Linked DNA regions of Homo sapiens. The protein of the gene in region 1 purifies or fractionates together with the protein of each later gene. This does not show direct contact. Each region holds a gene or a part of one and is shown on either strand. Other genes may lie near its edges. The genes, in order: SHISAL1, SLC12A2, ATP1A3, TXNDC11, SLC25A15, SCAMP1 and ATP13A1.

Region 1 (4,350 bases):
TTTCTGTCTCTGTCTCTGTCTCTCTGTCTCTGTCTTTCTGTGTCTCTGTGTCTGTCTCTGTCTCTCTGTCTCTGTCTATCTCTCTGTGTCTCTGTCTCTGTCTATGTCTGCCTCTGTCTTTTTCTATCTCTGTCTTTGTGTTTCTGTCTCTGTCTCTGTCTTTCTCTGACTCTGTCTTTCTGTCTCTGTCTCCATCTCTCTGTCTCTGTCTCTGTGTCTCTCTGTACCTCCTCATGCCCGCATGCTCTAACAGGGTCACTGACACTGGCCTGGTGGTTTTCAGCCCCTGCCCCTTTGCTGGGGGCAGCTCAGAGGGAGGCTATGAGGATGTCTGGGGGTGCTTGGCAGGGCTCCCCGGACAGCAAAGCCAAAGCCACGCCCAGGCCAGGGGTCTGGGGGCTACCCAGCTGCTCTCCCCACCCCAGATGCTTCCCATGCTTTGGCTCACCTGGTCCTCACCATCCCTGGAGGACGGACCCACTCAGCCCATTTTACAAATGAGGAAGGTGAGACACTCAGAAGGAAAGCGGCCTGCCCGAGGTCACCCCTTCAGGGGAGGGGCCAGCCAGTGAATCAGGGCCATCCAGATGCAGGAGTTACGTGGAGCTGTGCACACAGGGGTGCGTTCATGGTTGAGGCTTCGGGGCCCGAAATGCGGCTCTCTCCTTTGCGTCCCTGCTCTGCTGGGGCCTCCTAACAGAGTGTCCCTCGGCCTGGAGTCACGCCATGCCCCAGAGCAGAAGCCCACGGATGCTGCCCTTTACTGCCCTTTACAGCCTCTAGTGCTCGTAGGGCCCCTAGTGCACACACAGCCTCTTTCTCTAGGTGGGGGCTGCGCCTTGCTGTTTACAAAACGCTCCTGGGAGCCCCCAGCCCGCCTTGGAGACCATGAGTCTTTCATCAGTGAGGGGAGGAGGCCAGAGAGGTCACGATGGCCCAGGCAGCCTCATGCCAGGACTCCCACCCGGTTGTCCCGGCTCCCAGCCCAGGGCTCTGTTGGCTCCGGGAAGGCAGCCGGGGAGGCTTCATCGTTACCAAATGGCCAAAGCCCATGGCGCTGACCGCCCAGTGGTGGCCGGGTGAGCTGGGTGCTGGTAATGGGCAGGACCCTTCCACATCCCCCAACCTCGCCGGGCCTGCCCTCCCCGGCCCCCCATCTCTGCATATCAGGCTCCTCCCAGTCCCTTGAGGCCCAGCTCAAAGGCTGCCTCCCCATGCTGCCCTACCGCTCTGTCCCTTCCCTCCCTGAGTCCTGTGGTAGCCTCACGGGCTGGTCCCAGGGCCTAAGCTAGACTTTCTGCCCAGCAGCGTGAGTGTGCCTGGTTCCTCCCCAGCTGCCCACGCACTGAGCGTGAGCAGGGCCTCCTCACTGACCTGGGCAGTGACCCAGACAGTGACCGGAACTGGCTAGCTGCCTCTGCCCCTTGCCGCTAGGCCAGTGGGCCCCAAACCCAAGCCCATCAGCATCCCCTGGAGGGCTTGCCAGGACAGACGGCGGGGCCTACCCCGGAGCTTCTGATTCAGAAGCCCAGTGGCCTGAGAATCTGCATTTCTGACAAGCCCTCCGGGGATGCCCTCGAGGCCGATCAGGGGCCACACTTTGGGAACTGCTGCTCTGAGCCACAGTTTTCTCCCCTGTACGATGGGAATAAATGAGATGGGGTGAGACAGCTGTCTACTTGGGGCTCTCTAATAACCTCTACATCCCCAGAGGGGGTATTCTTCTTTCTTAAGGTTGAGGAAGAGAAGGGGGCCTGGAGAGCTCCCCTGGTTCCCCAAAAGCTGAGACCTTTCTCTCGCAGTGGTCATGCCCATCCCCACAGAAGAGGGTGCTGTCTGTGGGGGAAGGGGTGTGGAATTTCATGCCCCCCGCCGGAGGCAGCCTCAGCACCCCAGCACATGAAGGCCGCCTGCCCATCTTCCAGCCCAGCCCAGCCCAGCTGGGACTCCCCTGCAGCAGCCCCGGGTGGGTAGGTGGGGAGCTGTGTGGGCTGCAGTCTAATAACCTCTCAGCAGACACAGAGCTTTCAACGAGCTGGAGGAACTCCTGCAAAGCCACTGCCTTTGTGGTTAAAGGAATGTATTCAGCCAGCGAAGCCCCTTTTCAGTGATACAAATTAGATACAGCGATCTCTTTTATGAAGATACTAATTAAGCCTGAGAGAGCGGGCTTTAGGTTTTTTCCATTGTTATATTTGTTCAGACTTTCAGTCCTGTTTATCACCATCGGCACGACTCGTAAATACCATCCTGGGTTTGCAGTAGCATTGGTGGCTGAATAGGGGCCTCCGCCCCTGAGCAGAGTGGTGGGAGGGTTCCAGGCCAAGGCAGAGCTACCACCGTGAGGTGGGGGTGACTGAGGCAGGCCCTTGGGGACCTTGGGGCCTAGGGTACTAGTTTAGTAGAAACCAAGGAACGAAGGGTCTGCTGTTTTTGACCCAAGAGGTACCCAAGAGGTCCTTGCACCTATGCCAGCCACCACCCGGGCCAGCCTGGGCTGAGCAGCAGGTCCACCACTGCCCACCTGGGAACAAAGAGCTAGTGATACAAGACTGGAGAGGGCCCCAAACTTTGAATCCAGGCCTGAGTTCCATTCCTGTCCCTCCAACACTTATCAGCTCGGGCAAGTCACCTTAGGTCTCTGAGCCTCAGTTTCTCCATCTGTAAAGTGGGATCTCAGACTTGCTTGGCTGTGTGAGTTAAATGAGATGGGTCTGTGAAGCATACAGTAGGTGCTCAGTTAAGGCTGATTTCCTAATTGAGTGACTGCTGCATGTCAAGCATGTTCACCGAAGCAGGAGAGCCAGCCCTGCCCTCCAGGACCAGCCAGTCTGGGTGACACAGAGAATGTAACCAGGGCTGGGAGGCTCGGGGTAATGGGAACCCAGAGGTGAGGCTCACAGTGGACCACAAAGGCATCCAGGGGAGGGAAGAAGCAGGCAGGACCTGAGAAGAGGCCGGCCAGTCCCCCTGCCTCTTGGCACCCGTGGACTGGTGAGGGACCCCTCTGAGCCTGGTGACTCTGTCTTCCAGTCTTGTCTGCACATTTCCGGGTCTGTGAACCATACACAGACCACAAAGGCCGCTACCACTTTGGCTTCCACTGCCCCCGGCTCTCGGACAACAAGACCTTCATCCTCTGTTGTCACCATAACAACACGGTCTTCAAATACTGCTGCAACGAGACGGAGTTCCAGGCGGTGATGCAGGCGAACCTCACGGCCAGCTCCGAGGGTTACATGCACAAGTGAGTGCCACTCTGGGGGTGCAACCCCACTGCCTCGGGCCCCAGGCAAGGGGCCTGCCTCCCAAAATCGCGTCCCCTAGGGAGGCGGTTGGGTAACCGCTATAAGGTTGGGTGGGCCTGGAAGGAGTCTGGGAGAGTCTTTGGATGACCAGGGTTTTCGGCCCATTGTGCCTTCTAAGTTTCAGCTTTCTCATCTGAGAAATGGACACAGAGGCCAGGCGCGGTAGCTCACACCTGTAATCCTAGCACTTTGGGAGAATGAGGTGGGTGGATCACCTGAGGTCAGGAGTTCGAGACCAGCCTAGCCAACATGGTGAAACCCCATCTCTACTAAAAATACAAAAATTAGCAGGATGTGGTGGCAGGTGCCTGTAATCCCAGCTACTCAGGAGGCTGAGGCAGGAGAATCACTTGAACCCAGGAGGCAGAGGGTTGCAGTGAGCAGAGATGGCGCCATTGCACTCCAGCCTGGGTGACAAGAGTGAAACTCCGTCTCAAAAAAGAAAAGAAAAGAGGGAGGGAGGGAGGGAGGGACACAGAATACTCACTTTGCAGGGTTACCATAGAAGCTAAGTGAGGTTAAGGATGTGGAAAGCTTTCAGGCGTAGAAGGCGCCTGGGCCTGTAATCCACCGGGTTCCTTCATTCATTCTTCATTCATTTAACAAATACTGATTGACACCATTGACCCAGAGATTAATCCCATGCAGTTCTTTTCCTTAAGGTGATTAAAATACATTGGGATCAGGGCCTGATGGAGGGGACCACAGGTGTGGAGAAAGAGAGAGTTTGCTGTTAGAAAAGCAATGGGAACACGCTAAGTAGAGTCATGGAGTTTCAAAACAGCATGCGTTTCTCTATTATGAGTGAAGCTGGCCGTCTTTTCACATGCCTGAGAGACATTTGTATTTCTTTTACCGTGAGCTAGCTGTTTATGTCTTCTGTCATTTTTCTATTGAAGTTTTTGTTTTTTTCTTATTTACTTATGGGTGCTTTTTATATATGAAGGAAATATGATGAGTTGCAAACATCTTCCCATCTTCTCCTTGTTGAATGTTTCCATACAAATGTTTCCTCTGTGACTTTGACTTTATACTGCTTTTT
Region 2 (4,350 bases), on another chromosome or scaffold:
AAGGTGGAAGAGACAGGAATGAATGATCTAGAATGAAAGCCTATATTGTTTTGGAATTTACAGTGCTTTATGGTTTGTGGGAAGGCATGCACATCTTTAACTCATTTCAGAAATATGGCATGATCTCACTTTTACTATCTTTTTTTTCCCCAGATATTTCTTTAAAGATCTCTTTGTTCATTAAACAAGGATTTATTGAGCAGCTGCTTGGCATATGGCATTGTTTAAGGCACTGGGGAATCAGGCAAAACAAGACAGAAATTCTTTCCCTCATGGAAGTTATATTCTAGGGGAATTGAATCAAGATATAGAAACAAGATACTTGATTTTAATTTTTAATGTTTAAAATTGCAGGCTCAGATTGTTCTTTTGGTGATCCTACTTCTTGCTATTGGTGATTTCGTCATAGGAACATTTATCCCACTGGAGAGCAAGAAGCCAAAAGGGTTTTTTGGTTATAAATGTAAGTAAAAAAGATTCAATATTTTTTAAGGGTACCTATTTATAGAATTCTATCATCAATTAAATTTTGTACATTTCAGATATTTTGTAACAGAATTGACTATGGTTTGGTGATTCACCCTAATTTACAATTTAGTTTTGTCCCCTTTATGCTGTACAGTTGGAGTAAAAATTACTTCTATTTACATCTTTTCTTTTTCATTATTAGCAACAAAAGGTGATAGAATATGGAGAAATCAGTGCTGCTAAGAAAAGGAGATTTTATTCTCTACTAGTTTTGGGAATTTGTAACTGAATTTCTAACTTTTGTTCTAATATGACTTTCATTCTTTTAACATATTTAAGCACAACAGTATAAAAGCGCCTAAGATTGTGAAAGCAATTATTGGTATAATTGCATTTTTCAAGAGTGCAGGCCATTTGATTTTTAGGAGATCTCTCCAGTTGGGTTTGTCTTATTTGTTTTTATAGATTCAGGTTATTTATGTTTGTCAGGAACGTAAGTGAACCGTGTCTCCTTCTCAGTCCAGCACATTTGGAGGGTGCATGATGCAGTTTTTTATATTACTTAGTGGTGTTAGTTTTGATGACTTAGTCAAGGTTATACCTGCACAGTTTCTCTATTGTGAAGTTGCTGTTTTTTTCTTTGCAGTTAGTAAGTGATCTGTGGAAGAATACTCTGAGACTGTTCATAGCCCTGTCAAACTTCTACCAAATGGCTTCATCCTTAACCCCTCTCACATCTGGCTTTTGTTGGTTAAAATATGTCAGATGGTGATAGATGCACTATGAATTTTTTGTCCTCTGCTTCATTTCTCTTAGTCATTCCTTCTCCTTCTTGAAACATGTCTATTTTATTCGATGTCAGATACCCTAGGTGCCTAACTCACTGGTCACTATGTCCATTACTCCTGTTACCCCCTTTAAATGCAGAATTTTACAACTATTATAGTGCTGACCTTCTAACTATACACTCTCCCTTGGGTGGTGTGTATTCTCATGGCTCAAAATGCTATTAAGGGACTGACATGTTTCTATTCCTGAATCTCTCCTTTAAAGTCCAAACATAAATATATATCCAACTGATTATTTGAAGTCTCTCCTACTTATTTCTTCTCAGGCTTTTCCATCTAAGCAAGTAGCTGAAACCAGGATCTTAGTGTTTCCCGTCCTACCTGCTCCTCTTAATTTCTAATCCTTTCCTAATCAGTGTATTTATTCTCCCATCTCTAGATTGAACCTCTGCAGCAACCTCCTAATGGGCCTCCCTGTTATCAGATGTTGAATCTTTCAGTCCATTGTCCACACAACATTAATAGTATATGTCATTTGCGTGTTTATGACCCTACTTTGGTTTTCCATTTTATTTAGGATAAATTTAACTTTTATAAAATATTCACACTCTGTTCCTCAGTGGTCACTCCAATTTCATTTAATTTTTCTCCTTACTATAAGAATTTTATCTTCTTTTATTTCCTCAGAAGAGTTAAACCTTTTTCTACTTTGGGGTCTTCATATATGTTGTTTCTCTTTTCTGGTATACTCTTTTTCCCTGATGATCACATGGCTGATTCTTGCTCAGCAAACTCTTAGCTTAAGTATTGTCTCCTTCCTTATATTTGCTTAGCCTTCTGTAACCACATTGAATTAGATTCTCTCTCTCTCTCATTTGTTATTCACAAATCCCTGTTTCCATCAGAACATTTACTGCTGTTTATAATTACCTGTTATTTTGGTCATTTGCTATTGAGACTCTTAAATTCCATGAAGGCAGGAACAATGTCTAACTTGTTTATATTGCATCTCCAAGTACTTTGAGGTGCTAGAAAGCTCTAGTACAGGACCTGACACATAGTAGCTGCTGAAGTATTGAATGGATAGATGGATACATTACAGTTAGTCGGTTATCTTAGAGTCAGAGATGAAAACACTAGGTCTAGTTGAAGCTTTTATTGTTGTTGAAATAGAAAGGAACTTTACTTAGGGTAGCTAATTGTCTGACAGCCTCAAAAATCAATAGGTGACTAGACAGCAGAGAAAGCTGTGGACCAAAATCTATACAGATAGTAAAGTAAGTTGGAAGCTATCAAAAAGTTGATTCTATATTATTATGATGTTGCTTTTGTTTTCCTTTTTTTTTTTTTTCTTGAGATGGGGTCTCACTCTGTCACCCAGGCTGGAGTGCAATGGCATGATCATGGGTCACTGGAGTGTCGACTGTCCAGGCTTAAATGATTCTCTCACCCCAGCCTCCCAAGTAGCTGGGACCACAGGCATGTGCCACCACTCCTGGCTAATTTTTTAATTATTTCTAGAGTCAAGGTCTTCCTTGTGTTGCCCAGGCTGGTCTCAAACTGCTGGGCTCAAGAAATCTGCCTGCTTCGGTCTCCCAACGTGCTGAAATTACAGGCGTGAGGCACCACGCCATGCCCCCTTTTGTTTTTCTACCTCCCTTCTTGCTTCTTTTACCTCAGAGATTGAGGGGATTATCCACATTTTGATTTGCATTTGGGCTAGTCATAACAATTCATTCAGAGGCTCTTGAAACATAATTAGCGAGGTATACAAAAAATGAGACATGAATCAGATCAGATGATCATTTTGATGGTAAACCATTGTCTCATACAAGAAAAGAACACCAAATACTTGAACTGGGAAATATGCAAAAATTTACTCGTTACTTTAACTGAAGAAAAGTTAGGGGTCATGTATACCTATTATTCTTGACCTCAGTTATTATAGTCTAATTTGCTCTCCATTAATTGTCAAGAATATTTTGTTCTCTGCAGCTGAAATATTTAATGAGAACTTTGGGCCCGATTTTCGAGAGGAAGAGACTTTCTTTTCTGTATTTGCCATCTTTTTTCCTGCTGCAACTGGTATTCTGGCTGGAGCAAATATCTCAGGTGATCTTGCAGTAAGTATTATAAAGTGCTATATCAATTATATATTTTAAAAGTGGAATTTGTATATTTATTTTTACAGATAGACTTTAAAAAATCTTCTTGTCTTCTAGGATCCTCAGTCAGCCATACCCAAAGGAACACTCCTAGCCATTTTAATTACTACATTGGTTTACGTAGGAATTGCAGTATCTGTAGGTAAATAGTTTCACATTTCTTTATGTGTCGCAGAAATTTCATGATGTACGTACTATAAATACTTATTTTTATGACATTTGCTAACTTTTTTAAATACAGAAATATTTCAATAAAAAGACATGGAGTTGCTCATTATAATTCAAAAACAGTTTTTAGAAAACTAGTAATGACTTCTATAGACATTATCTAAACCGCCAAATGCTTTATGGTATCTCCAGGATTTTTATTAATTATGGTAAATTAAAAAATTATATGAAATTGCATCTATAAACTCATTCCACTGAGATACTGAAAACAATGTATGTGTAGAAGCAAATGAATTTCACTCTTACAAATTTCTGTATTTTTTTAAGATGGTTATTTATTTTTTTTTTTTACAGTATATGAAGATTCTTTCAAGGCTATTAAGCAATGCTTGGCAATTTTTTACTATAAAAACACTGGTTTTGAAGATTAGGACATACTAAGTTTTACTTAGGAAAAGTTTTACTAAATTCTTAGTAAATTGAATGAAAGTGATTTCAAAACCATGTTATTACTTCATGGGATCATGGATCAACTTCATGGTTACTTCATGGGATCAACTTGAAAGGACTTAAGTGGTCAACCAGTCTCTAATCCTTTTCTTACAGATGAGAGGATAGAAGTTCCGAGATTTCACTACCAAAGATAGTGGCATTTGTTTTAGAGAATTGTTTTCATGGCAAAGAAGGTTTTTTTGTTGTTTGTTTTAAATAAAGTCTTTAAGGCTATTTTCTATGAATTACTATTAGTTTACATATGGTTT
Region 3 (4,350 bases), on another chromosome or scaffold:
AAGAGAATTCAAACGGCAAAGCCGAGCCCAGAGTAACAGATTAAATGTCCTCAGCCCTTGTCTCCTATATCCCAGAGGAAACCATGGTTAACACCTTCTTATCTCCCAAGAGACATCTTTTTTTGGGGGCTGGGGGCGGGGATAGAGTCTCAATCTGTCACCCAGGATGGAGTGCAGTGGCACAATCACGGCTAACTGCAGCCTCCACCTCCGGGACTTAATCGATCCTCCTGCCTCAGGCCCCTAAGTAGCTGAGACTACAGGTATGCACCATCACACCTGGCTGATTTTTAAGATTTTGTAGAGATGGGGTTTCGCCATGTTGCCCAGACTAGTCTTTCTTTTTTTTTGAGACAGAGTCTTGCTCTGTCACCCAGGCTGGAGTACAGGCATGCAATCTCGGCTTACTGTAGCCTCCACCTCCTGGGTTCAAGCAATTCTCCTGCTTCAGCCTCCCGAGTAGCTAGAATTACAGGTGCATGCCACCACACCAGGCTAATTTTTGTATTTTTAGTAGAGATGGGGTTTCACCATGTTAGCCAGGCTGGTCTTGATCTCCTGACCTGAAGTGATCCCCGCACCTTGGCCTCCCAAAGTGCTGGGATTGCAGGGGTGAGCCACCTCGCCCAGCGAGGTCTTCAACTCCTGGGCTCAAGCAATCCTCCCACCTTGGCCTCCCAATTTGCTGGGATTACAGGCATGAGCCACCACGCCTGGCCTCCCCAAGACATCTATGCATACACAGTACACACACTGTCTCAGATACAGCCGTCTGCTCCTTCCGAATCTTGTGCATCATGCTGGAAGCCTGGGAGGCAGCTGTGAGCAGAGCAGACACCATCCCTGTTCTCACAGGGCTGGAGAGACAGCCTTAAACAAGTTAACAGATATGTAATTACAAATTGTGATATATGCCCCGAAGAAAGCAGGCCGCTGTGATAGATAATAGTGAGGGTCCTGCCCAGATGGGGTGGACAGGGAAGGCCTCTCTGAAGTGAGGGAAGAAATACCTAACTTCCGTCAGGGGCCAGGCACGGGGGCTCACGCCTGTAATCCCAGCACTTTGGGAGACCAAGGCGGGAGGATCGCTTGAGCCCAGGAGTTCAAGACCTGCCTGTACAACAAATTAAGACCTCAAAGATCAAAAAATTTTAAAAATTAGCAGGGCGTGGTGTTGCACACCTGTAGTCTCAGAGACTTGGGGGGCTGAGGCAGGAGGATCACTTGAGCCTGGGTGGTCGAGGCTGCCATGAACCATGATGGTGCCACTGCACTCCAGCCTGGGATAGAGCGAGATCCGAGACCCTGTCTCAAACAAACAAACAAAATAACTTCCAACGGGGGCATTCCAGATATACCCAAAAGTAAAGCAAAGGCACAGTGGGCCCCTGCGCCTCCATCCCACCTGCAGCGGCAGTCAGCGCACGGCACACCTTGTTTCTTCCCCACCACCTGGAACACACACTGGATTATGCTGATGCACATTTGTCACCATTTCATCCATAAATAGTTTAGGATGAGAAACCCCTAGTTTGTGGAGAAGAGCACAATGCAGGGAACGAGAATATCAGGTGGGAGCGGCCCAGGCCCTTATTGCTATGCAAGAGACATCAAAGCAATCAAAGAAGCCACACCACAGGCAGCCTGCTTCACCTTCCCTTCCCTCCCTCCCTCCCTTCCTCCCTCCCTCCGTCCCTGCCTGCCTGCCTTCCTTCCTTCTTTCCTTCCTTCCTTCCTTCCTTCCTTCCTTCCTTCCTTCCTTCCTTCCTTCCTTCCCCTTCCTTCCTTCCTTCCCCCTCCCCTCCCCTCCCCTTTTTTTGATGGAGTCTTGCTCTGTTGCCAGGCTGGAGTGCAGTGGCGTGATGTTGGCTCACTGCAACCTCCACCTCCCAGCTTCAAGCGATTCTTCTGCCTCAGCTTCCCACATAGCTGGAACTACAGGCACACACCACCACTCCCAGCTAATTTTTTGTGTTTTAGTAGAGATGGGGTTTCACCATGTTGGCCAGGATAGTCTCGATCTCCTGACCTCGTGATCCACCCGCCTCAGCCTCCCAAAGTGCTGGGATTACAGGTGTTTGCCACCGTGCCCGCCTGTTCTTTCTTAATGATTGACCTCATTGTTCATGGGCTAATCTTTTTACTTATTTATTTATTTAGAGACAAGGTCTCACTCTGTTGCCCAGGCTGGAGCGCAGTGCTGCAATCATCAGTCACTGCAACCTCGACCTCCTCAAGTGATCCTCCCACCTCAGCCTCCCAAGTAGCTGCGACCACAGGCTCGAGCCACCGTGCCTGACTAATGTTTATTTTATTTTATTTTATTTTTTTGAGATGGAGTCTTGCTCTGTTGCCCAGGCTGGAGTGCAATGGCACAATTGCGGCTCACTGCAACGTCTGCCTCTGAGGTTCAAATGATTCTCCTGCCTCAGCCTCCCAAGTAGCTGGGGTTACAGGTGCCCACCACCACGCCCAGCTAATTTTTGTATTTTTAGTAGAGATGGGGTTTCATCATGTTGGCCAGGCTGGTCTTGAACTCTTGATCTCAGGCAATCCTCCTGCTTCGGTCTCCCAAAGTGTTGGGATTACAGGTGTGAGCCCCAGCGCCTGGCCTGGATTAATCTTTATTTTGTTTACTTTAGACAACCTGTACTGGTTGAATATTTATTGAGATATGGCATGCATACAGTGAGTTGGGCATATTATATCTCATTAAAATATTCAACCAGACAGGGTGTATAAATTTTTACACATGTACACAGCCATGCAACCACCAGACCCCAGTCAAGATAGAAAACCATTCCAGCCCCCCATTTAGGTTTTGTCTGCTCTCTTCCAGTCTATATCCCTCCTCCTAGACATAACCATTATCCTGACTTTTAGCCCAGAGACGGGTGCTGAGCCTGCTCCAGTTGGAGTTGGATGCTAAGAATGCTTTTGTGTCTGGCTCGTGTCACTCAGCACGGGATCCAAGGTCCAGCTGTGGAGTTGTGTCCGTAGCTCGCCCCTTCTTGCTGTGTAGTATTTGACTGCATGGATGTACCGTGGTTTATTCATCCCTCACCTGTTGATGGACATGGGGTTGACTCTGGCTTTTGGCTCTGATGAGTGGTGCTATGGTGAACATTCTCGTACTTGCTTTTCGCTGGGCATAAACAGTCCTCCTCTCTTTTGGGTATAAAACCTAGGAGTCGGATTACTCGGTCGGTGGGGTGGGGGATGTTTGATAGCAACTCCGAAACCATCTTCCAAAGTGGTTATTTCAAGAATGTTTCCACAAAGGCGATGTGGTTGGATGTTTATGTGGAAAGGTAGGTGGGTGAGGGGCCAGGTGTGGAGACTTATGCCTGTAATCCCAGCACTTCGGGAGGCTGAGATGGAATCACAGCCCAGAAATTAGACAAGCCTAGGAAAAGTGGTGAGACTCTGTCTCTACTAAAAATACAAAAATTAGCTGGACGTGGTGGCGCGTGACTGTAGTCTCAGCTACATGGGAGGCTGAGGCAGGAGGATCACTTGAGCCTGGGAGTCGAGGTTGCAGTGAGCCGTGATCATGCCACTGCACTGCAGCCTGGGCAACAGAGTGAGACCCTGTCCCAAAAAGAAAATAATGGTGGGTGGGCTGGGGGGTAGAAAAGGACGCTGGACAGGCCGGGCGCGGTGGCTCACGCCTGTAATCCCAGCACTTCAGGAGGCCGAGGAGGGCAGATCACGAGGTCAGGAGATTGAGACCATGCAGGCTAACACAGTGAAACCCCGTCTCTAATAAAAATACAAAAAAATTAGCCGGGCGTGGTGGCAGGTGCCTGTAGTGCCAGCTACTCGGGAGGCTGAGGCAGGAGAATGGCGTGAACCCGGGAGGCGGAGCCTGCAGTGAGCCGAGATCGCACCACTGCACTCCAGCCTGGGCAACACAGCGAGACTCTGTCTCAAAAAAAAAAAAAAAAAAAAAAAGGACGTTGGATGAGGGCAGAGGAGGGGCAGAGGGAGTGGGGCTCCCTGGCATGGGCGCCTGCTCTGAGCCTGCCTGTGCCACAGGCCGCCTGATCTTCGACAACCTAAAGAAGTCCATTGCCTACACCCTGACCAGCAATATCCCGGAGATCACGCCCTTCCTGCTGTTCATCATGGCCAACATCCCGCTGCCCCTGGGCACCATCACCATCCTCTGCATCGATCTGGGCACTGACATGGTGAGCCCTGGCAGCCACCCTTGGGGCCCAGGAGGGTGGAGTCCTCCCCTCTCCGGCTCACCCGGCCTCCTCCGCCTAGGTCCCTGCCATCTCACTGGCGTACGAGGCTGCCGAAAGCGACATCATGAAGAGACAGCCCAGGAACCCGCGGACGGAC
Region 4 (3,487 bases), on another chromosome or scaffold:
TTTTGTGGAGGTCTGAAAATGAAATGGGTTTAAGATGTAAATCATTCATTATGTTCAAAAAATGTTCCCTTAGGAACCAGGCGTGGTGGCTCATGCCTGTAATCCCAGCACTTTGGGAGGCTGAGGCAGGCAGATTGCTTGAGCTCAAGAGGTTGAGACCAGCCTGGCCGACATGGTGAAACCCCATCAGTACAAAAAATACAAAAATTAGCCAGGCATGGTGACATATGCTTGTAATCCCAGCTACTCTGAGGCTGAGGCACGAGAATCTCTTGAACCTGGGATGCGGAGGTTGCAGTGAGCCAAGATCACACCACTGCACTCCAACCTGGGTGACAGAGCGAGGCTCTGCCTCAAAAAAAAAAAAAAAAAAAAAGTGTCCTTAGGGACATAAAAGGGTTGTAGTGTCAGGATGTTATGTGTGGTATGGATCTTTTAAAGGTTGTTTTTCCCAGTCTATCTCTTACCCGAGCTTGAATGTGGCCGTGAGAATTCTTAGCTTTCATGGCCTGTATGAACATATGGAGGACGCAGAGACTGACAGGATTCTTCTGTTGCCCTGGCTGGAGTGCAGTGGTGCAATGTTTGTGTGGGGCAAAACAGCAGAGAATCTGTGGAGCCCTGCCTGCCCCAAGCCTTCCACTTGCTTGTCTCTCAGTTGGCCTCCCAGCAGCTCCTCATCCCTCTCGTACAGAGGACAGGGTGGCTTTCTTACCCATGGCACGTCCTTTTCTCGGATTCCAGGAGGCCTACAAAGGGGTTTTCTCCCATGCGTGCAGACTGCTGTGAACGTCCGCCATGGGATGGTCGCTTGATTTTTTCACACTTGCCTAATCAGTATTCCAGGTGCAGTTCTTAACGGCAACTACCCCGGAAGCCCCTGCAAGCAGGACATTAACAAGGGGGAGCGGACTTCCAGTTAGTAAACGTAGATGCAGATGTTTTAGTGGAAAAAGAAATTAACTCTTGGTCCTTTAGAGCCTAATACACTGGATGTTTGCTCCCTTTTTATAGATTCCCTTTGGTTTTTAGAAAGTTGAGTCCTTTTGGGGACCCACTCACATGACTTTGACAGTATCTTCTCTCCAGGGGAAAGTGTCTGCAGCATCATTTAGGGAGTTCCCTGGCTCGCATGTATGACGTTTGCTGTTTTAATTTCCTGCCTCCCTTTTGCGATTCAGCTTGTCATGTTTCTCTAGGAGAGTGTTTCCTTCATATCTATTGAATCATTCCCTTGGTTTTTGCTTTGTATCTCAAAGAATTTTTGCGGGAGTACTTCTGTGGTAGTAGGGTCTTGTCACATCATGCACTAAAAACAGAATGTGACTCACCCTTTTCTACTGCTGACTGAGTTGTGATGAGGCTTTTTCTTTCTAAGAAGTGTTTAAATTACCACATAGTCCAGGAATCACGGACAGTAACACTAACACTTTCATCTGTGTGGGCCAGGAGTTGGGCATGTAGTTTAATGACGTATAATTTTTGAATTCCAAGCATAGTTTGAAAAAATATGAAAATCTTAGCACCCAGCACATGCCTTTTAATGAAGAAGTTCTCAGCAGCTGGCAGAAATGCATCTGTGTAGAGAGACACAGGCGGAACAGGTGGCAGGGTGGGGCGTCATCTGGAGGCCTGCGTCTGGGCTGAGTGACCTTCGTTCTTAGGCTGCCTGGTGTGGGAAACGTGAAGATGTGCGCATTTCTCCGGCCCCATGCTGGGCACTTGCTGCAGGCCCTTACCCTTGTCGTTTCTAAATATCGAACATAAGAAGACTGTCCACTTCTCTTTTAATGTAAGGATGTTGGTAAACCAAAGCTTTATGGCTTTGGAATGGAATTTTTCTCATTTCCTAAAAATAAATGGTAGAAGTAAAGTATGCTCATCATGAGCTGGTCCCAAGCGAGTGTTTGGTTTAGCCAGAAGGTAAATGGGCAAGCAGCGTGAGCTGACAGCTTGCAAAAGAGGAAATGAAAAAGGCTGTTGGATAACATGTAGTAAGACCTTTTTCATTGTCCACCTGCTTATGCTATTTTTAGTGAAAAGAATATGAAATTGTATATTTACTGTGATAAAATATAAACTTGTGCATGTGCTAGGTGGAGATGTTCACAGAGGGGAAAATGTTGAGGTGTTAACATTGATGACTTCAGAGGAGTGAGATTGCAAGTGATTTGAAGGTGCTGCTTGTATGTTTTTACATCCCTTGCAAATTGTCTACAAAGAGCATGTCTTGATTTATAAAAATCATGAAGGAAAAAAATGCAAGAGCCTGTCCTTGGGAGGAAGAGGAAGGGGTGGGGCCTTGAGGGAGACATAGCCTTCCTGTGCAGAGGCATCTTGGAGCCACTTGCTCCACCGAGCAGGTGCTCCTCCAGCCAGCACTTGCGTCAGACTCTGTGTGACATTGCAAAATATAGGTGCTCTGGCCTGGCCCTGGGCCAGGGTGATGAGGGGGAGATGGGTGCTCCTGTCCACCAAGAGACTCTGATGTGTCCCAGGGGAAGAATCACAGTTTTTTAGAGGTGTGCCCTGCCACTCCCTCAGGGTTAGAGGAGAGTTGCATAGACATGGGGACCTCTTCCCACCATAGTTTCACATGACTGCTTTCCTGGAAGTAGACTGTTGACATTCTCTGTCCCTGCTACTTTCACAAAGTGTGGCAGTATTTTAGTGTGCCCATTAGGGACATTGATGGAGAGTGCACCAAGACCTCTTAGTTAGCAGATAGCATGCTCACGGATGTCACTGTCCTGTAAATGTCTGGAGGTAGACATCCTGAGGGATCTTGGCAGCTTTTTCTGGGAAGTAATTCACGTTTACTCTGCCTTACAAGACCAGGCTTGTGCCGCAGAACGTGGGGGCAGGTCCAGCGTCTGGTATTCTTCCATGGGCCCACTTGACAGGGCCACGATGTGTTTTCAGTTGTTGTGGGGTTTTTTGGTTTTCTGTTTTTGAGACAAGGTCTGACTCTGTTGCCCAGGCTGGAGTGCAGTGGTGCAATTACGGCTCACTGCAGTCTTGAACTCCTGGACTCAAGTGATCCTCCCACCTCAGGCTCCTAAGTAGCTGGATCTACAGGTGTGTGCCACCTTGCCTGGCTAATTTTTTTATCTTACTTTTTATACAGATGAGGCCTTACTATATTGTCCAGGCTGGTCTCAAACTCCTGGCCTCAAGCGATCCTCCCACCTCAGCCTCCCAAAGCACTGGGATTACAGGCACACAGCACCACACCCAGCTTTGTCATTTGAATGGCTGGGCCCCACTTGAAGAAAGCTTATATGTTAAGAAAACTAAGCTTTAAAGGAGGGGATGGTTGAATGTTTACCCCAAAATTATAAAACAATTTACGGCCGGGTCCAGTGGCCCTGGGCAGCCAGGCTCTGGAGTCCCTGCTGTTGACTTCCATTCTGTTAACACCTGAGGGAGACAAACTCGGCTGCCGGCCCACCTCATACCTAAGTGCATAAAGCTGGTAGTTTTGATC
Region 5 (4,025 bases), on another chromosome or scaffold:
AACATTAATCAATACTTTTATAAGCATAGCTACTCTTCAGTGATTAAATCACTCTCTAGCTCACTCTTGAAAACACATTCTCATTATCCTTTGAGAGTACTGTTTCATACACAATTTGATTTACTTGAATTGGAAAGCAATTTATTATCCTTATTAATTGCAAAACTTGCTTACTTATCTTGACATCTGGCTGAGTTCTGACCAAGGATATTGCTGTGGTTAACTCAAAGCCTATAAATCTGCTGGGAAAAAGCAGTAGATAAATTGACCATTTTCAAGGATCAGTCCCCACTCAGTGAGAATGGGGTTTGGAAAAGTGCCCTATTTTCTGCACCCTTGAGATTCATTACAGCCAACTTGAATCTAATATTCATTGCCTAGAAGTCCAAGAGTGTAAGTCTTTAAAACTTTTTATTGAAATAATACACATAGTATCATGAATGCACATTGAAGTCACAGTATGCAGCTCTATAAATAGTGACACAATTTATGTGCCTTTGTAACCTGTGTCCAGATTAACAAATAGAACATTAACAACACCCAGAAAGCTGCCCTCATGTTCCTTGGAAGTAATTCAAGGTAATTAAAAGATAGTAATAGTTATATCCAAAGGACTTAGGCAGATCAACACCTTGAATTATCAGTTGACTTTGTATTTGAGGTCTAGCAGTGTTCACACAAGGCATGGTATGGTAGCTTGGGGCTAAGACTCGGATTGGAAGGGAGGTTAATTGTGTTGAGCTGGATTACTTTGTTACATTCCATGTAGCAGTGCTGCAGGAAGGGCTGGCTGATGGGGAATACCTGACAGTGTCTTCTGAAGCTCTCAGAAGGAAAATAGTTTTTAAATGTCTGTGGCCTTTATTACCTTGGGACTTGATCCTTCATCTGTCCAAGCCAAGTCTCCTTCTTGCTGAGAACAAAGTGAGGAGAGAGGGATTCACTAAGTTGCACTGAGTATGTGATTTCTTGGCCTGTTCTTAGCAGGGATAAACCTGCCCTGGTTGCCCTCAATCATGAAGGGGAGTCAGACAAAGAGTGTCCTGTGTTCTGGCTGCTACAGGAGCAGGGCTGCTTAGAAGAAATTCTCCCGCATCCCTGGTGCTCTGAGAAATAAATTCTTGGTGCTTCTGCATAACAGGAGCTATATAACTTGTTCTCAGAATTTGTCTTGTCTTCAGACAACATTTACTCCTTCACTCATTTCTCTGCACTAAAAACAGATCCTGTAAACACCTGAACAAATTTCCCAAAAACACACCAGAAAGATTGAGGAAATAGGAATCACAGCGATAAGGGACTGGGCAATACAATGCCATTTTATGTTTGCTGAGTTTAGATAATTCCTTACTGTAAATAAATTTCCTTCCCACAGAAGGATGCCGTTGAGTCTTAATTCCTGGCTCTTCATTTACAAAATCAGCTTCTTCCTTACTAGTGCTTGATCAGATCTGTTAATTGGTTGCAAATGCCCTTGTCTTTTCTTCCTTCCCACCTGCTGTAACCGTGCTATCTCTCTGTGTCTCCTCCCAGTACAGTGTGGTCTGTCATCAAAAGTATTCTTAGGAAAGATGGCCCCTTGGGGTTCTACCATGGACTCTCAAGCACTTTACTTCGAGAAGTACCAGGCTATTTCTTCTTCTTCGGTGGCTATGAACTGAGCCGGTCCTTTTTTGCATCAGGGAGATCAAAAGATGAATTAGGTAAATGTGTTTGCATTGACAGCAGTGGGGTGTGATGGTGTTTGCTCCCTGCAGGTATGGTTTCTGTGGATTCTCTGCCCTTTGTGCTCTCCTCCCCACATTGGTGGCTCCATCTGGCACAGGGAAGCTTCTGGATGCCTGAAGGTAACATGGTGGCAGGCAGTTGATAGCACCCACCCTCCAGGCCTGATAATTTCCTTAGGACAGGGCCTGAAGCAGTACATCCCAAACTTTCTTACTGGAATAAAGTTTTTTAATTTTTCTGGATCTATTTTAGGGGAGAAGAAATCCAGAAATTACTTTCCCAATTGGGGAATCACCTATAAATAATCTTGAAATAAGGTTAAAACTTGGAAATCTTAATAGTGTTTTGAGAGCAGTGAAAACCATAGTTCTTTGTAGCTTATCGTGTTTAGCTGGTTGGTACAACTACATGCAATGTTTGGCTCACATAAGTGAGTTTTTCTTACCATCTCCCTCAGTGTGTGTTGAATCTATTCTGTGGTTAGTCAAGCTCCCAGACTTAATTGCTATGTTTAATAAAAACAATTTTGGCTTTTAATGATAAATGAAGAATCAGGGCTATTAAAATACTTAAGAGTGAGAAAGTTGAAAAAAGACATAGATTGTGTTTGGCCTGTCTTCTCCCCACTGTAGGGGGTTGCCACTCAGCTGGAGGCCTGCTGGTTCGTGTGGGCCAGCCCTTGACACCTCAGTGACCAAGCGAAATATAACCCTCACTAAGGCTTCTTGTACTTGGCAAGACCCAGGAGTAGACCTGGGCTACCAAACAAAACCCTGTGTTCTTAGAGCTTGGGAACAAGAGCTTTGACAGTTTTCCTCAAAGAATTGTATTCTGTAGCATTAGCATTTTTATTTTCATCTACCTGCAGCCATTACTACATTGACCTCTGGAAATGTCACATCAGCTGTTCTTGAGACAAAATACCATTTGCTATTTTTTTTTTCTCTAGGCCCTGTACCTTTGATGTTAAGTGGTGGAGTTGGTGGGATTTGCCTCTGGCTTGCGGTATACCCAGTGGATTGTATCAAATCCAGAATTCAAGTTCTTTCCATGTCTGGAAAACAGGCAGGATTTATCAGAACCTTTATAAATGTTGTGAAAAATGAAGGTGAGTAAATACCTGTTTTTCAAGCATCTATATACATCTTAAAATCTGAGATACGGGCCGGGCGTGGTGGCTCATGCCTGTGATCCCAGCACTTTGGGAGGCTGAGGCAGGTGGATCATGAGGTCAGGAGATCGAGACCATCCTGGCTAACACGGTGAAACCCCGTCTCTACTAAAAATACCAAAAAAATCAGCCAGGCGTGGTGGCAGGCACCTGTAGTCCCAGCTACTCGGGAGGCTGAGACAGGAGAATGGCGTCAACCTGGGAGGCGGAGCTTGCAGTGAGCTGAGATTGCACCACTGCACTCCAGCCTGGGCAACAGCGAGACTCTGTCTCAAAAAAAAAAAAAAAAAAAAAATCTGAGATATGAACTCTGTTTTGATTGTAAAAAGAAAGAGGACAGTAACACAGAAACTTTGTGTCCCAAATAGAGGACAGATACCTTGTCTGTTACTCATAGTAATCCTCCCTTACATTTGTATAACATGTAAAGTTTTACAAAGTACTTACACCTCCCTTATCTAATTCAATCTTCATAACCACCCTGGGCAGTACTAATACTATACACAGGTCTCCAACTTCAAGGTTGGTGTTCCTGCCACTGCCCAGGTGAAGCTGCAAAGCTGCTGCCACCTCTATCTCCATGGTTGCCTCTGTCTGGCCATCTCAGGCCTCAGCTCTGCCCCATCCATATACTAAGAGTTAACCAAGCGTGGAATTGGGGTATGTTACCTGAGCATCAGTCAGTTTTGCCAGGAGACCTGATACTTGTCCTTGTTTCCATTAGTCTATTTAGGAAAAGCTGGGAATGCATCCTTCTATGACTTGTTGGTTTTTAGCACTGTTGTCTGGGTTTGCATGTGTAAATATACCTATGCTATGCAGCTGCGTGGGTATCCCCAAAGGAGGGATTGTTGCAGTCTTTGACCGCCCTTTTATTTGCTAGGAATAACGGCCTTATATTCTGGACTGAAACCTACTATGATTCGAGCATTCCCTGCCAATGGAGCACTCTTTTTGGCCTACGAATATAGCAGGAAGTTGATGATGAACCAGTTGGAAGCATACTGAAGTGTCTTGGTGGGCCTGAGCCAAGCACAGGTGTTTGAGGACTACAGTTCATCTCAGGGTTTCTTGGAGTACAAGACCAGTGTGAAGTTATTCTGATTTCTTGGGAATTTTGCTTTTT
Region 6 (3,992 bases), on another chromosome or scaffold:
TATCCATCTTATTTCATTTACCTTGACAATGATACTTACAAGTTGATTTCACTCCTCCCTTATCTGTTTAAAATTTTGAGGCTGAGCTTGATAGCTCATGCTTGTAATCCCAGTGCTTTGGGAAGCCAAGGCAGGAGGATTGCTTGAACCCAAGAGTTTGAGACCAGCCTGGGCAACATAGTGAGACTTCCATCTCTACTAAAATTTAAAAGTTAGCTGGGTGTGGTGGTGCACACCTGTAATCTAAGCTACTTGGGAGGCTGAGGCGGGAGGGTGACAGAGTGAGACCCTGTCTCAAAAAAAAAAAAAAAAACCCAAAAAACAAACAAAAAAAAGATATAAAATTTTGAGTTTGGAGATTGGATAGCACTAGGAAAGTATTCTGAGGATTTCCTTTGTGATTGTCACATTTTGAAAACTGTCTTTTAACATTAATCTGGAACATAGTGGTTGCAGTTTGTGGGCCTGTGTTATTTTACGTTCATGTCAACTGCATGAATTCCTGCTCATTTTTCCTCATGTTAATGTTTTTAAAAAGCACATATTGAGCTGCTGTTATATTTCATCAACTTAAGATGCCATCCTTTGTAAGATGCACCATTATCTTATTTACCACTGTCTCACTTATCTGTTGCTATGTAACAATCCCAAAATATAATGGCTTAAAATAACAATTATTTGCTCACGATTCTGTTAATTGCGCTAGACTTAGCTGGGCAGGTTTTTTCTTTTTTTTAATGTTCTTTTCTGGAGTCACTAAAGTGGCTTCAGTCACCTGGTTTATGGTTTCAGATATCCTTACTCAAGTGCCTGCTGGTTACCTGGAGATGTCAGTGGGCACAGCAATTAGCTGTCTTTCATGTAGCCTCTCTACTAGTAATAAATGGGCTTTGTGCATAGTAGCAGCAGTGCTCCCAGAGGGCAAGAGCTGAATCTACAAGGCTTCTTGAATCATATGCTACTTCTGCTGTATTCTGTTGGTCAAAACAAGGCACAAGTTCAGCCTAGATTTTAAAAGGAGTGGCAAGCAATAGGCTCCACTTCTTGACTGGAGACAGACCTATGATCTGAAGATACACCTAGTATAAAATGGCGAGGTAGTCGTAGGATAACTTCACTAGACACTCCCATTCAAATAGGGAAAGAGTGGGAGGCGTGTAGCACCTGCTGATGCATAGCAGTTCTGAAATCTAGCCAGGCACGTGTTGTTAGGGTCCCCTACATTGGGGACAATGAATGTTTCTTGATTAGGGCCCAGTTCTGCTACCTCGTATTGGTTCCTTCACCTGTTATTTTCTTCTGCTTTTGGCTCCACCCTCTGAGAGGTCCTTTATTTATTTTTTTCTATAAGAATGAGCCCTTTTGGCAGCTGAGTAGCATTTTTGGCCTGCTTCTTGCCCATTGAAAATTGGGAGCCCAGAAGTTTCTATTAATTTTGAACTGTTTCTTTAGTCCAGGCTGTCACAACTCTCTTAACAGTTTCTTTTTAATCTTACCAGAGTTCAAACCATGCCTTAAAAACCACATTTGTCATTCTTTTTGAGACAATCTTCATTTAGGGTGAAGTGTCCGTTGCCATGGTCGGTATTCTTCAGATGTTTAGAAAACTTTTGTCTAGGTTGAGCATCTCATATGGCCAGGGGAAGGCTGCTGCCATAGGAGGCTGCTGTGCCACGTGACAAAACTAAGATTTGAACACAGTTTTATTTTGGCCCTGTAGCTTTACAGTCATATGAGATGATGGTGATTATGAAAATTTCGAAAGTAAACTGTTCTTGTGCTGATATTACCAAAAGTTTTTTTTGGACTATGATTAATATTTAATAGTGATAAATGCAGATCCAAATAATTTATTGGTTATTTCCTTAATATGAACCACCAGTGTGATATAGTTGCTGAAAAATATATATTGGCTTAGTGAAATTAGTGATCAGTTCCTTAAAATTAATAATCCTATAGTATTCTGTTCTGGTCTAATAGCTGGGTATTCTTCTCAATTGCAAGTGCATATTTAAAGAGTGGTTTGAAAATACTAGGATATGCCCAAAGAGGACAGTCAGAATGGTCATGGGACTGGAATCAAGTTCTAGGAAGAACAATTTAAGTTTCAATTACTCAGTGGATTTAGTCTACAGAGGGCTAAAGGGAAATAGGAGAGCTCCCATCAGATACTTAAAGTGTTCTTAGGTAAGTGAATAAACTTGTTATTTGTTGCTTTAGAAAAAGAATCTAAGGTTAACTGGCAAAGTTTACTTGAAGGTAAAGGTAAATTTTGTCCAAACAGACTTTTAAAAATCTGCTACCATGGCCTGACAATGCTCTTTTGGTAGGGCATTCTCCAGCACTTGCAGAAATTCAAGCAGAAGTTGGATAACCTACAGAGATGCCTAATTTCAATATTGTAATGTCTCAGGGAATAGGGAGACCCAAGGAGAGGGACAGAGAATGGGAACAACTGGTTGGTGGAATAGTCAGGACACACAATTTTTTTTTTTTTTTTGAGACAGGGTCTCTCTCTGTCTCCAAGGCTGGAGTGCAGTGGCGTGATCTCGGCTCACTGCAACCTCCACCACGCAGGTTCAAGCGATTTTCCTGCCTTAGCCTCCCGAGTAGCTGGGACTATAGGCGTGCACCGCCACACCTGGTTACTTTTTGTATTTTTAGTAGAGACGGGGTTTCACCATGTTGGCCAGGCTGGTCTCCAACTCCTGACCTCAGGTGATCTGCCTGCCTTGGCCTCCCAAAGTGCTGGGATTACAAGCGTGAGTCATCGTGCCCGGCCAGGACACATAACATTTATCAAGTAAGTTTGCAGTGTTATGGGCATGGTTTGTGGCACCCCAAGACAATTACAGTAGTAACATCAAGTATCACTGATCACAGATCACCATAGCAGACATAATGATAATGAAAAAGTTTGCAATATTGCGAATACTACCGTAGTGTGACGCTAGAGATGTGAAGTGAGCACATGCTGTTGGGAAAATGGTGCTGCGAGACTTGCTTGATGCAGGGTTGCCACAAACCTTCAATTTATTTTTTTAAAAAAGGCAATATCTGTGAAGTACAGTGAAACTAGGTATTCCTGCATTTTCTCTGTTCTAATATATCGACCATATTGGATATTGGAATTAAGTATGATCAGTTCAGCTAGAGAGGATGCTTTATGTTCAGAGACCAGCTATGCTCTGAGCCTCAGCTTCTGCTGAGGGAGCAGCCCTCATGGTAGCTTACACATTTGTGATCATGTCCTCTAGGGTGTGACTTTTGCCACCCTGGCCTCAGCTGACTGATCTTAACAAAGGTACTTGTCCAAAGCAGTGGAATAGCAGTTATCTCACTAGGCTTTTGAAGGCCATTTTCAAGAATTCCTGTCCTTCATTAGAGGTGTTTTTTAACTAGAAGGGATGTGCCATGTCATGAAGAATTTCAATCTCTGTGAAACCTGGCGTTCTTCTTTCTGTATATATCTTTAAAATATTCTCCTGCTCCCAGCATTTGGGGTGACCTGAGTGAGTCTGTCTGTTTCAACCAGAATTGCTAAACCGTAAGTGTAAAGTAACATTTTCTTGCCAAAAGGGTGATAGAGTTAAGCCTGTATTTAGACCTACAGTTTTTGGTGGTGTAGTGGAGTAATATACTTGCAAATATTGTAAGATGTTTTTAAATCACAAGGGAGAATTTTCCAACTTTCAGTGGGTGTGGGATATAAAAGGTGACATGGAGTTTGGTTAGATTTAACCTTGTAACAAGTCTCTGAGTTGTTCCTACTGAGGCAGTCTGTAATGTCCTGCAGCGTTTGACTTCATATGTGTAGACTGGTGTGGAAAACCCTGTTCTCCTTTCTGTGCAGAAGGCTTGCAGATCTATACCCAGAGAGCAATCCAGTAATCCCCTTCTCCTTGGCATTTGGCTTTGGGTGCTTTTCAGAATTAGTAATGTTTCTTTATCCATTGCTGGACACCTAAGTTGTTTCTGTTTTTTGTCTATTA
Region 7 (4,350 bases), on another chromosome or scaffold:
CTCAGGACTCGTACTTATTTGTTTCCAGATGAGAAAGTATTCCCCCGAAGTATTAAAACTCAGGGGCTGAAAATTCACCAGCGCTTTCATTTTGCCAGTGCCCTGAAGCGAATGTCCGTGCTTGCCTCGTATGAGAAGCTGGGCTCCACCGACCTCTGCTACATCGCGGCCGTGAAGGGGGCCCCCGAAACTCTGCACTCCATGGTGAGCTGGCCCCAGCCTGGGGCAAGGGGTGGGGGCGCGGGGCAGCCCGTGACATCCCCCTGCATTCCCTGCAGTTCTCCCAGTGCCCGCCCGACTACCACCACATCCACACCGAGATCTCCCGGGAAGGAGCCCGCGTCCTGGCGCTGGGGTACAAGGAGCTGGGACACCTCACTCACCAGCAGGTACGGGCCCAGGCTCCCCCTGCCTTCACCATGTGCCTGGCCCGTCAGCTCCTCCCTGAGTCACCTCCTGTGTCCCACAGTGCCAGGTTGAATGGTTGTGATTTTGTCCTCCTTGCCCCGCCTCCAGCTTCTACCTTTGGAGACTCCAAATGGCACTCAGTCTGTCCACTGCTGTGGGGACCCACCCAGTCCTGGCTCACGCAGAGCACACGCAGGGCTTACCTGCCCCAGTCCTGGTGTGTCCCTAGCTCTACTCTTTTGCCCTGGTCTTGGGCAGGGCTAGGTGGCATCCTCAGCCCTCTCACCCATCCATCCTCCACAAAGCCCACCCTCCGCCTCCACCACCGGCACATCTGCCGCTTGGCTTCTTCCTGGGCTCTCGTTCTTTCTGCTTGCACCCTACAGCTGCGGATCCTTCCAGAATTTAGCCTCAGGTTGCAGTACTGTGTGCAGAGCCCAGGCCACAGCTCACAGCCTGCATGCTCTGCCCCGTTCCTGCACCTGGAGCCCCCTTCCCAGTGACACAGGTCCTCATCGCCTTCATAGTGGCCACTTCTGAGGCCTTTCCACCCTCTCTGGATTCCATTCTCACCTCCTCTCTCATGGCACTCAGCACTCCGATTTCTGTGACTTTCTTGATCATGCGTCTCCCCTGGTGCAGTGTGAGCTCCCTAAGGCCAGGGGTCTGTGCCCAGTCTGTGGTATGTGGTGGAGCCCCAGTGAGTAAGAGTTCCTGGCTAAACTCCAACATTATTGGGAGAGTCCCTACTTCATTGACTTGGAAGCTGAGCCACAAGGGACTCTGTGATGTGCCCATGTCCGCAAGCAGGACATAGAGCCACATTCGGGGGACCCAGACCCCCCAGTCACTGCCAGATCCCACCCCTCAAGCGTGCCTGGTACCCTCCTGGCATTTCTCCCCTCCCAACCCTCGCATGTGCCCACTACGGGAACAGGGCCTTCCATTGTCCCCTTGGCTCCCAGCGCATGGTCAGAGCTCAGGAAATGCAGAGTGTGGGCAGAGGGAGGGACAGATGGTGAGGGTGCCCCTGTCTGTCCGCAGGCCCGGGAGGTCAAGCGGGAGGCCCTGGAGTGCAGCCTCAAGTTCGTCGGCTTCATTGTGGTCTCCTGCCCGCTCAAGGCTGACTCCAAGGCCGTGATCCGGGAGATCCAGAATGCGTCCCACCGGGTATGGGACGGTGCTCGGCTCCACCCTCTGCATGGGAAATAGAGGCGAGGAGATGACAATTACAGCTTCGTGGTAGGGGTGGGCACCCAAGTCTCACAGGCTGCATGTTTTAGCTGAGCAAGATCATAGCTCAGGTGCTAACATTGCCACTGGCCCAAGGACACTCTGGGACCCGCCTGTGCTGGCTCCTCTCTCCTCCACAGACCACTCCCTTCACTCCCCGCATCATGGGAAGATGGGGGCACTTCTCTCCACTTCCCCGTTCCACCGCCGTCCTGGAGAGAAGGAAGCTGAGGCTGGGGAGTTGGGTGGGGGGCACTGTCTGCCTGTCCTGGTGGCTTCTGGTGGCTTGTGTTTTCTATTTTGGGACTTAGGGTGTCTTTTAGGGTGTAAGGGGTGAGTGAGCCGTCTCAGAGGATGATGGCTCTGGGTCACATGGGTGATGTGATTAGTCCCCACCAAGCCCAGAGGTCATGGTCCCATCCTCCTCTTTGCTGAAATATTACCCCCATGGGCAGCTACCAAGCCAAAAGGGTCCACCTCAGGGGCAGGTTGTTCATTTGTATTGCAAATCCAAGCTAAGGGTGTCTTCAGAAGGACGCACATACACGTGTCATTTGTGTAAAATGACCTGGGTGGGGGTGGGTTGTGGCCCTTGGAAGCCCATTCAGCATCTCGGTTAGAGGCCCAGGATCTCCCACTGTGGCCTACCTTAGAAGGAGACTTGGCAGCCTTGTCTCTGGCCTAGAGCTTGGCCCCAGGGTGCCATGCTGAGCCTCTGCCCCTCTTTACCCAAGGTGGTCATGATCACGGGAGACAACCCGCTCACTGCATGCCACGTGGCCCAGGAGCTGCACTTCATTGAAAAGGCCCACACGCTGATCCTGCAGCCTCCCTCCGAGAAAGGTGAGGCCCTAGCCTGGCCCACAGTGGGGAAGGGGGACCCTGAGTCCAAGAACAGCTCCCATCGCAACAGCCCACCTGTGTACCAGGCCTCAGCAGCACAGTGTCTTCAAATGCCTGGCACCACTAATCACAGCCCTGGCCCACTGGGCACCTCGGACAGCATGTGAGCGTTCACTGGGTCGCAGGTCCCAGGATGTGCGGCATGTAGGTGTTTATTTACCATAATGAGGCGATAGTCTGACTGCCAGCTCGGGTTTCCTGTGCACTCATGGGCAGATACTGCTCCTACCACGCTTACTCCCCATCCTCAGTGTCATCCTCATTTCACACCCTCTTTGGCCCGGCAAGCTGCCCATGTACCGAGTGCTCCCTTCCCGAGCACAGGGACTGCTGGCATCCTCAGCCACAGTTGATGGCAGTTTGCCCAGTGCTCAGCCTGACCAGACCCCAGGCGGAGCGCTCCGTGCGTGTTACTGCGTTGGTCCCTCCACCCCATCCTGCACCACACGGGGTGGCTTGCCTTCCCCACACCACAGAGGAGGAAGCTGGCTGGGTCAGCTCTCGGGGCCCTGCTTTGTAGAGAAGGGACAGAGGCTCAGAAGTGAACCCACTTGCCCAGGTCACTTCCAATCCATGGCTAAGGATTGGAATCCAGACAGCCTGATTCCAGAGCTCAAGGCTCCAACCTCTCCCCAGTGACCTCTTTGAGCAATGCCCTGGATTCAGATTGATGAAGAGGCAGACATAGAGACCCAGCCCCTCCCAGCTAGAGGTGTGGGGCTTACCAGATACCTGCCCCAGAGCTAGAGGTGAAGCCCCTGTGGGCGCACGCAGTTCAGGACCTGCATGAGTGTTGACAGGGCCCTAAGAAGAACCACATGGAGCAGTGTTGCCACAGGGCTGCTGGCAGCAAACATTCACAGGTCTGGGCCAGAGCAGCTTCCGGAACCTCCAGGCCACCTCTCAGAGGACTCGGTCCCTGCCCTCCCTCTGTTCTATTGGTCGCAGGCCTCCCCCTGTCCCAGCCCCAGCTACCGGGGTCTTCCAGGGCCTGGGGATTGTGGGCAGGTGGCATGGAGCGGATGAGCAGAACTGTTGATTGACAAGCGAAGCTGGTCTAGCAACAGCTGCAGCACAAGCCAGGTGGAAGTGTGCTGCCCTTCAGCTTGAGATGGTCCAGGGTGAGCAGGCAGTGCCAGGAGGGCTGGCGGGCCGCCCTTGGCCATCCTCAGCGCCCAGCATCCAAGCCAGGGCCAGCCAGCAAGAAAGGGGAAGTGGAGCAAGAAGATGTTGAGAACTCAGGGGCCCTGTCAGAGTTGGGAGGGGGCCCAGCCCCGAGAAAACAGGATTTCAGAGAGGCCACGGGCGCAGGGATAAATGAGGTGAGGGCCTGGTGTGGGGTTTCCCAAGGAGAGCGCAATAGCCCCCTTCTGTGTGTTTCAGGTTAGGGGGCCTTGCATGAGGTGGGGGCATGGCTTAGCTGGGGTCAGACTGCCCAGGTTCTAATCTGGCTGTGTCCCGGGCTCTCAGGCAAGTAGCTCAGGCCCCAGGCTCTTGGTTCCACCCTGTGCACCTGAGGGACATTCTTTGTGGAGTCCCCAGAGAAGGGCTGGGGGTCACCTGGGTGGGTAGGGAGGTGCGGGCTCCAGAGAGGAGAGACTGGCTGGTGCTGGGGTCCGAGTGGAGGGAGGGTGCTTCTGAGCCCGGTCAGCCAAGCCCCCAGCCCTAACCCTAGGTGCTGCCCGCAGGCCGGCAGTGCGAGTGGCGCTCCATTGACGGCAGCATCGTGCTGCCCCTGGCCCGGGGCTCCCCAAAGGCACTGGCCCTGGAGTACGCACTGTGCCTCACAGGCGACGGCTTGGCCCA

Evidence for each region.
Region 2: the proteins of SHISAL1 (region 1) and SLC12A2 purify together in Homo sapiens (affinity purification with mass spectrometry; one large-scale study listed by BioGRID and IntAct). This does not show direct contact.
Region 3: the proteins of SHISAL1 (region 1) and ATP1A3 purify together in Homo sapiens (affinity purification with mass spectrometry; one large-scale study listed by BioGRID and IntAct). This does not show direct contact.
Region 4: the proteins of SHISAL1 (region 1) and TXNDC11 purify together in Homo sapiens (affinity purification with mass spectrometry; one large-scale study listed by BioGRID and IntAct). This does not show direct contact.
Region 5: the proteins of SHISAL1 (region 1) and SLC25A15 purify together in Homo sapiens (affinity purification with mass spectrometry; one large-scale study listed by BioGRID and IntAct). This does not show direct contact.
Region 6: the proteins of SHISAL1 (region 1) and SCAMP1 purify together in Homo sapiens (affinity purification with mass spectrometry; one large-scale study listed by BioGRID and IntAct). This does not show direct contact.
Region 7: the proteins of SHISAL1 (region 1) and ATP13A1 purify together in Homo sapiens (affinity purification with mass spectrometry; one large-scale study listed by BioGRID and IntAct). This does not show direct contact.

What each region holds. Positions count from the first base shown.
Region 1 is NC_000022.11:44,295,569-44,299,918, reverse strand, and holds part of SHISAL1 (protein shisa-like-1 precursor), read left to right. Parts: intron 1-3,033; coding exon 3,034-3,247; intron 3,248-4,350.
Region 2 is NC_000005.10:128,135,346-128,139,695, forward strand, and holds part of SLC12A2 (solute carrier family 12 member 2), read left to right. Parts: intron 1-354; coding exon 355-463; intron 464-3,251; coding exon 3,252-3,379; intron 3,380-3,478; coding exon 3,479-3,563; intron 3,564-4,350. UniProt on the Homo sapiens protein: Cation-chloride cotransporter which mediates the electroneutral transport of chloride, potassium and/or sodium ions across the membrane. Plays a vital role in the regulation of ionic balance and cell volume.
Region 3 is NC_000019.10:41,970,231-41,974,580, reverse strand, and holds part of ATP1A3 (sodium/potassium-transporting ATPase subunit alpha-3), read left to right. Parts: intron 1-4,038; coding exon 4,039-4,193; intron 4,194-4,272; coding exon 4,273-4,350. UniProt on the Homo sapiens protein: This is the catalytic component of the active enzyme, which catalyzes the hydrolysis of ATP coupled with the exchange of sodium and potassium ions across the plasma membrane.
Region 4 is NC_000016.10:11,680,638-11,684,124, reverse strand, and holds part of TXNDC11 (thioredoxin domain-containing protein 11), read left to right. Parts: intron 1-3,487. UniProt on the Homo sapiens protein: May act as a redox regulator involved in DUOX proteins folding. The interaction with DUOX1 and DUOX2 suggest that it belongs to a multiprotein complex constituting the thyroid H(2)O(2) generating system.
Region 5 is NC_000013.11:40,805,761-40,809,785, forward strand, and holds part of SLC25A15 (mitochondrial ornithine transporter 1), read left to right. Parts: intron 1-1,533; coding exon 1,534-1,703; intron 1,704-2,677; coding exon 2,678-2,836; intron 2,837-3,782; coding exon 3,783-3,907; 3' UTR 3,908-4,025.
Region 6 is NC_000005.10:78,366,625-78,370,616, forward strand, and holds part of SCAMP1 (secretory carrier-associated membrane protein 1), read left to right. Parts: intron 1-3,992. UniProt on the Homo sapiens protein: Functions in post-Golgi recycling pathways. Acts as a recycling carrier to the cell surface.
Region 7 is NC_000019.10:19,649,823-19,654,172, reverse strand, and holds part of ATP13A1 (endoplasmic reticulum transmembrane helix translocase), read left to right. Parts: intron 1-28; coding exon 29-204; intron 205-278; coding exon 279-389; intron 390-1,452; coding exon 1,453-1,578; intron 1,579-2,375; coding exon 2,376-2,484; intron 2,485-4,232; coding exon 4,233-4,350. UniProt on the Homo sapiens protein: Endoplasmic reticulum translocase required to remove mitochondrial transmembrane proteins mistargeted to the endoplasmic reticulum.